Linked DNA regions of Homo sapiens. The protein of the gene in region 1 interacts with the protein of each later gene in a biochemical or structural test. Each region holds a gene or a part of one and is shown on either strand. Other genes may lie near its edges.

Region 1 (4,217 bases):
TCTGATTAAGTTACTCTTTTATTTTTTTGAGACAGAGTGTCGCTCTATCGCCCAGGCTGGAGTGCAGTGGCATGATCTCGGTTCACTACAACCTCCTCCTCCCTGGTTCAAGCGATCCTCCCACCTTAGCCTCCTGAGTAGCTGGGATTACAGGTGCATGCCACCACGCCTGGCTAATTTTTATATTTTTAGTAGATATGGGGTTTCGCCATGTTGGCCAGGCTGGTCTTGAACTCCTGACCTCAGGTGATCTGCCCGCTTCGGCCTCTCAAAGCATCATCACAGCCTTGAACTCCTGGGCTCAAGTGATCCTTCCACCTTAGTCTCCCGAGTAGCTGGGCCCACAGGCGCGGGCCATCATGCTCGGCTGGGGTTGTATGTCTTGTGTTGCTTGCCTTGGCCCCTGCCCTCTGAGATGCTCCCTCCCCACCTCCCACTCCCTCTGCTTCCTTTCCCTGGTAGGAAAGAGGCAGGCAGAGGTGTCTACACTGGCTGTCTCTGGGACAAGCACCAAAGTGTATGCTCCATATCAGTGGATCTGCAGACACAGCATGGCGTTTTGATTGGGAGCAAGGGGTGGACGTAGGTGTTGCCTTGTGGTCCCTGCCCTGGAGTTGCCTGTGCAGACAACAGGTTGGAGGAACAAGCCAGCAGGACATGAGGCTGCTGTCAGTGTGCTGCCCTGCTCTGCCTGTGTGGCCTCCCTCTCCCCTCCAGGTGCAAAGTGTGGCCCCTCTGCATCCCTGAGAGGCCAGGCTCCCCTATATCCACAGAAGGTCATCTCTACCCATTATGGGCAGGAAGGAGCCGGTGGCTGAAAGAGAAGCACATCACGCTGATTGGAGGAGGGGTTTCCTGCTGTGAAGTAGCAGAAGATCAAACCGATTTTACTAGACCATTTCTTTTCCTCCATAGCCCTAGAGGCCTTGGTTTAGATGTGTTTTACTAAAAGTTACCTGGTTAGGGTTTGAATGATGGTGTTTTATTGTCAGGAGAAAGACCATCGCTCAGTACCTCTTGGAGGTGCTGGGTGTAAACTCCAGGATGAGCCCCGCTAGGTGTACACAGGAGGAGTGGATTTCTGTTTCCTGGAGGCCCCGCCCGTCAGTCATGGAAAGGCCCGTGTGGCCTGTCCAGCGGAGGAGGTCGGAGTGGAGCAGTGCGTTCCCGGCAGGGCTGGCCACCTGCTACTGCCTTTGCTGGTGGCGTGGAAAGCAGGTGTTTCCCTCTCGGAAAGATGGGGCCGGCAGAGCACGCACCAGGGCCCCAGCACAACACGCCTCCCCTGGCCTGCCAGCCCGTTCCCTGGAAACATGTCCTTGTGGAGGCCGTGGATGGACATTGGGGTTGCTAATTGCATTTACTTCCATTTCCCACCCCGTCTGGCCCCGCCTGGCCCCTCCTGACTTTTTTTCCCCTTTCCCCATGGTCCTAATGTGTGCAGGAAACACGGTCTGAAAAGATAAGGTGGGCTGGTGCAGGCCCAAAGCAGTCAGGATGCAGCCAGGCTCTGTCAGGGACCCCTGAGGACTGCCTCAGGGACGAGAAGGGGGCCGGGTTGGGGTCTCTTGGGCTGCCTTTGCCTGTGTGCTAATCTGAGTGACTTTAAAGATACCGTTCTCCTGTGTCAGCAGAGAAAGGTGGCCTCTGGGGGCTGCGTTCATTCTTGAGTGCTGCCTGTGTGACTGATAAGGGCATTCCAAAGGGCAGCTGGGTCCGGCAGGGGTGGTGCCCTTGGCTCCAGGGGCTGCCGACCAGTTGCGTGGTCCCGGCAGTGCCTCATGCCGAGTCATCCCCCGGCGGGGCCTCTGTGGGCAGCCCGGCCAGTTCGTTCGTTCCCCACCATGGTCACTAGGCAACTGTGAACTAAGCGGGAGTTTTTGTGTCTCAATCTCCCCATGAAAGCTGTATCAGCATCAGCAGGGTAGTGTTTCTACTTGCAGTAGCAGATCAGAGACCTGGCCAGCTTTGTGTCTGACTTTCTGCTGGCCACTGCCACATCAGTGAGTTCCATTGAGTTATCACAGCAGCTGCATCTAGGAGGAAGCTCCTGCCTTTCAGAGGAGGAAGCAGAGGCTTAGGAAAGTTAAGTAATTGGCCTAAGATGACAGGCAGGCCAGCAAGTGTCGGCGCTAGGATTTGAACCCAGGTAGGGGCTGTGCTCCTACTGCGGCGGAGCTGAGAAGGGTGCCTTGGCATGAAGGCTGTGGGCGAAGGAGTGCCGGGAGCTTGGGTCAGACAGACCTTTGCCCCTGTTGGGTCATTACTGTGGACACACAGTAATGTGTGTCCCTCCTGAGACACACAGAGGCCACCCTCTGTTTCTCTCCCACCCAAGGTTAGACTCCAGTCCTGAAATGGACCTGAGGTCTGGGGCTTTGAACAGCAGTGCTGGTATTGTGTTCCCTGTTCCCAGCCATAAATGATCCCTTGGGGTCTCCAGGGAGCCTGGTGGCCTGGGCTCTCGTTTGCCCTCTGGTGGTCTGCAGGCTCCCTCTAAGCCTGGGAGCTGTCCTGATCCTTAGTGGTTGGATGGGGCCTCCCTGCCCACACTCCCACCTGTGTGTCCTGAGCCCTCCGGCCCAGAGGCAGGCCTGCGCCGTGGGCCGCCCCCACTTCCTGCCGACACCTCCTGAGATGGAGATGCCGCTGCCAGCAGCACCCCCAGGCTGAGGTTTCACCAGGGTGCTCCGAAGACCATCAAATGCTCCCAGGGGCTGCCCAAAGGCCATGAGCCAGGCCAGGTGCTGTGTCCCTCTTGGATTCAGCATCCATAGCACAAGTAGATCAGAAGGTTCAAGTCCCACGTTAGTACTTGGGGAGCTGGGTGGCTCTAGGGAGTTGCTGTAGTCCCTGGGAGCTGCATCAGTCCATCAGGAAACACCATAGCCTCTCCAGTTATTGTAGATTACCAGAATTTACATGTTAAGCTCTTGCCCTAGTGCCTGGTGCACAGTTAAGTGTTCAAGTGTCAGCTGGTTCATAGTCAAGAGATTGAAAAGCCCAGGGCTTTCCAGACGGTGATCTGAGTAACATCCTGGGGAGTATCCTCGGGGAAGTGCTGACTCAGCCGGGGTTTCCCGTTGGGTTCCAGGCCCTCCTTTGCTCCCAGCTCCAGGCCTCCCAAAACCCTCTGCTCGCCCCACCTGGCTGTGGTCTCCCTCTGTGGCCCAGCAGGCCAGGATGCCAAGACAGCTTTTGGCCTCAGCCTCTGCTGGGGGCGTGCAGGCTCTGCCACAGAGGAGGCGTACCAGGCGCTGCCCGCGCTCAGCACCTGTTCCCCAGGCTGCGCACTGGCGGTGGGCTGGGGAGCAGCTGGCCGAGCGCCTGCAAACATTCCGTTTATATTTGGGGGATGAGGCATTCTTCATGCATTTGAAGTCCTTGCCTACACACCCATCAGAATCTGAGCTTCTTAAGCCCAAAATACAAATCCTGCGAGTAAATAAGAGCAAACATTTACTCCTGCTCGCAGTGTGCCAGGCTCACTCCATCCTCCCGCGGCCCTCCAAGCTGGAAACCTACTATCTTCGTGTTACAGACTGAGAAGCTGGGAACCGAGGCTCTGAGAGGTCAGAGACCTGCTGGGTCACACAGCTCGTTGTTGAGTAGAAGGTTCAGGATGGAAATGTGGGCCTGATTCCAGAGTTCCTCTGCCCCCTCCCGCCCCTCTTTTGTTGCTTCTGTCTGATTTGCTGGGGTCTACGTTGTGTGTAGTGAAGTCCACCCTCCTCAGGTGCCCTGCTGTACAAAGCATTCCTGGGCTGCCGCCACCATGACAGAGAGTATTCCCATCGCCTGAAAGTTCCCGTGCCCCTCATAGTCACTCCTGGTCCCAGGCAGCCCACTGACCTTTGTCTCTAACTTTTGCCTTTTCCGGAATGTCACCTAAATGGAATCATACAGGATGAAGCCTTTTGCTTCCACCTTCACTTAGCAGGATGCTTCTGAGCTGCATCTGTGTGTTTGAGAGCCCCTGTGGCCCGCTCCTCTTTGTTGGGGGTCCTTGTCCCATCATAGGGATGCACCATCCGTTGTCATCCATTCACCTGTTGGGGCGCTTGGGTTGTTCCACCCGGGGCAGTTTTGAGTCAAGTACGTGGTTCGTGTGGGCGTGTGCTGCTGCTGCTCTCAGGTAAATGCTGAGGAACGGAGGCGCCTCTGTGCTCCACTGGAAAACCCTTCCGGAGGAGCTTCAGCCTGAGCAAGCCCAGGAA
Region 2 (3,102 bases), on another chromosome or scaffold:
TGGCCAAAACCCTTGCAGTTGGTCTATTCAAATGCTGGGGTCCTGGGTGCTGTTGCCGTGACTTCAGCTTCTCCTGAGACAGGTTGAAGCCCAGTCTCTTAATGCAGGTCATATTCTTGTGTGTAGCCTGTGGGCCTCCTATGTCGGAATCACCGAGGCATCTTGTTGAAATGCAGATTTCTGAGCTCCCTTCAGTCCCTGAAGTGGATAAGTCAGTCCCTGGTGACTTATCCAACCAGAATTTCCAGGATCAGGGACCTGGAATCTGTTGTTAGGCACACTGAAGTTTGAGAACCACTGAATCAGTGATTTCAGTATTTCCTAAAATGCTTTTGTGCCATCATATGAAATATCAGTTTTCCAACTGGTCCTAGTGAGTTTTGTTTTAGATGTTTGTTTTACAGTGGAAAGGGAAATGATAGTCTGTGGCGGTTATTTGTTGCCCACTGATATCGCCCCAGGACCTACAAATGGAGCCTCCTTGTTAGGAGGCAACTGGAGATAGTGATCTTACTGTCTTCTTCCAGTTACTTCAGACCATATGCTGTCCTCCACATTTAGTTGATCTCCAGTTCTGCCTGGGTGTTTGCTGTTTGCTACCCTGTATCTTTAGTTCTCTTATTCTTCTAGGAATGATTGCTCAAAGATCATTCATCAGAGGACCAACACAGTGCCCTTTGACCTGGTGCCCCACGAGGATGGCGTGGATGTGGCTGTGCGAGTGCTGAAGCCCCTGGACTCAGTGGATCTGGGTCTAGAGACTGTGTATGAGAAGTTCCACCCCTCGATTCAGTCCTTCACCGATGTCATCGGCCACTACATCAGCGGTGAGCGGCCCAAAGGCATCCAAGAGACCGAGGAGATGCTGAAGGTGGGGGCCACCCTCACAGGGGTTGGCGAACTGGTCCTGGACAACAACTCTGTCCGCCTGCAGCCGCCCAAACAAGGCATGCAGTACTATCTAAGCAGCCAGGACTTCGACAGCCTGCTGCAGAGGCAGGAGTCGAGCGTCAGGCTCTGGAAGGTGCTGGCGCTGGTTTTTGGCTTTGCCACATGTGCCACCCTCTTCTTCATTCTCCGGAAGCAGTATCTGCAGCGGCAGGAGCGCCTGCGCCTCAAGCAGATGCAGGAGGAGTTCCAGGAGCATGAGGCCCAGCTGCTGAGCCGAGCCAAGCCTGAGGACAGGGAGAGTCTGAAGAGCGCCTGTGTAGTGTGTCTGAGCAGCTTCAAGTCCTGCGTCTTTCTGGAGTGTGGGCACGTTTGTTCCTGCACCGAGTGCTACCGCGCCTTGCCAGAGCCCAAGAAGTGCCCTATCTGCAGACAGGCGATCACCCGGGTGATACCCCTGTACAACAGCTAATAGTTTGGAAGCCGCACAGCTTGACCTGGAAGCACCCCTGCCCCCTTTTCAGGGATTTTTATCTCGAGGCCTTTGGAGGAGCAGTGGTGGGGGTAGCTGTCACCTCCAGGTATGATTGAGGGAGGAATTGGGTAGAAACTCTCCAGACCCATGCCTCCAATGGCAGGATGCTGCCTTTCCCACCTGAGAGGGGACCCTGTCCATGTGCAGCCTCATCAGAGCCTCACCCTGGGAGGATGCCGTGGCGTCTCCTCCCAGGAGCCAGATCAGTGCGAGTGTGACTGAAAATGCCTCATCACTTAAGCACCAAAGCCAGTGATCAGCAGCTCTTCTGTTCCTGTGTCTTCTGTTTTTTTCTGGTGAATCGTTGCTTGCTGTGGACTTGGTGGAGGACTCAGAGGGGAGGAAAGGCTGGGCCCCGAGTACAACGGATGCCTTGGGTGCTGCCTCCGAAGAGACTCTGCCGCAGCTTTTCTTCTTTTTCCTCATGCCCCGGGAAACAGTCTTTCTTCAGAATTGTCAGGCTGGGCAGGTCAACTTGTGTTCCTTTCCCCTCACCTGCTTGCCTCCTTAACGCCTGCACGTGTGTGTAGAGGACAAAAGAAAGTGAAGTCAGCACATCCGCTTCTGCCCAGATGGTCGGGGCCCCGGGCAACAGATTGAAGAGAGATCATGTGAAGGGCAGTTGGTCAGGCAGGCCTCCTGGTTTCGCCACTGGCCCTGATTTGAACTCCTGCCACTTGGGAGAGCTCGGGGTGGTCCCTGGTTTTCCCTCCTGGAGAATGAGGCGCAGAGGCCTCGCCTCCTGAAGGACGCAGTGTGGATGCCACTGGCCTAGTGTCCTGGCCTCACAGCTTCCTTGCAAGGCTGTCACAAGGAAAAGCAGCCGGCTGGCACCCTGAGCATATGCCCTCTTGGGGCTCCCTCATCCAGCCCGTCGCAGCTTTGACATCTTGGTGTACTCATGTCGCTTCTCCTTGTGTTACCCCCTCCCAGTATTACCATTTGCCCCTCACCTGCCCTTGGTGAGCCTTTTAGTGCAAGACAGATGGGGCTGTTTTCCCCCACCTCTGAGTAGTTGGAGGTCACATACACAGCTCTTTTTTTATTGCCCTTTTCTGCCTCTGAATGTTCATCTCTCGTCCTCCTTTGTGCAGGCGAGGAAGGGGTGCCCTCAGGGGCCGACACTAGTATGATGCAGTGTCCAGTGTGAACAGCAGAAATTAAACATGTTGCAACCAAGTGCTAGCCTGTTGCTTTGTTAACAGGAGTTAAATGGCTAAGCCTAAGTGTCCCCAGGATGGGATTGAATCCCTGCCACAATGGAGTGAAAGGTGGGGGAGTTTGAGGCCTCTGTGTTCTTTTCCTCGGCTATAGTGGTTTGGGGCTCCCCCAGATGGGGTGATGCAGAGGCCGGCCGGGATGCCTGCCCCCTGGGGAGGAATCTGGACAGCCCACCCGTGGGTCATATCTGGCCTTGCTGACCATCTTTGAAGTCTGTCCCGACAGCCTACAAATCAGGGCAGTGAGATTTCACCTGCTGGGAGAATGGGATGGGGATGGGGTGCTGGGGGACAGCAGAGAGGAAATGAGCATTTAGCAATACTGTGTATGAGGTACTGTGCCGTGTGCTGTTTCAAACTCATTTCAGAGTGAGTTCATCCTCACAAAACCCCTGCAGGCCGAGTCCCGGTGTCTGTGCTGTACAGGTGAGGAAGTAGGCCCAGAGGGTACATTCACTG

The links. Proteins that work in one complex are often made in the same cells at the same time.
Region 2: the proteins of EHD1 (region 1) and MUL1 form a complex in vitro, tested with the Homo sapiens proteins (one study listed by BioGRID).

Annotation. Positions count from the first base shown.
Region 1 is NC_000011.10:64,868,272-64,872,488, reverse strand, and holds part of EHD1 (EH domain-containing protein 1), read left to right. Parts: intron 1-4,217. UniProt on the Homo sapiens protein: ATP- and membrane-binding protein that controls membrane reorganization/tubulation upon ATP hydrolysis. In vitro causes vesiculation of endocytic membranes. Acts in early endocytic membrane fusion and membrane trafficking of recycling endosomes.
Region 2 is NC_000001.11:20,498,948-20,502,049, reverse strand, and holds the end of MUL1 (mitochondrial ubiquitin ligase activator of NFKB 1), read left to right. Parts: intron 1-630; coding exon 631-1,360; 3' UTR 1,361-2,602; downstream 2,603-3,102. UniProt on the Homo sapiens protein: Exhibits weak E3 ubiquitin-protein ligase activity. E3 ubiquitin ligases accept ubiquitin from an E2 ubiquitin-conjugating enzyme in the form of a thioester and then directly transfer the ubiquitin to targeted substrates.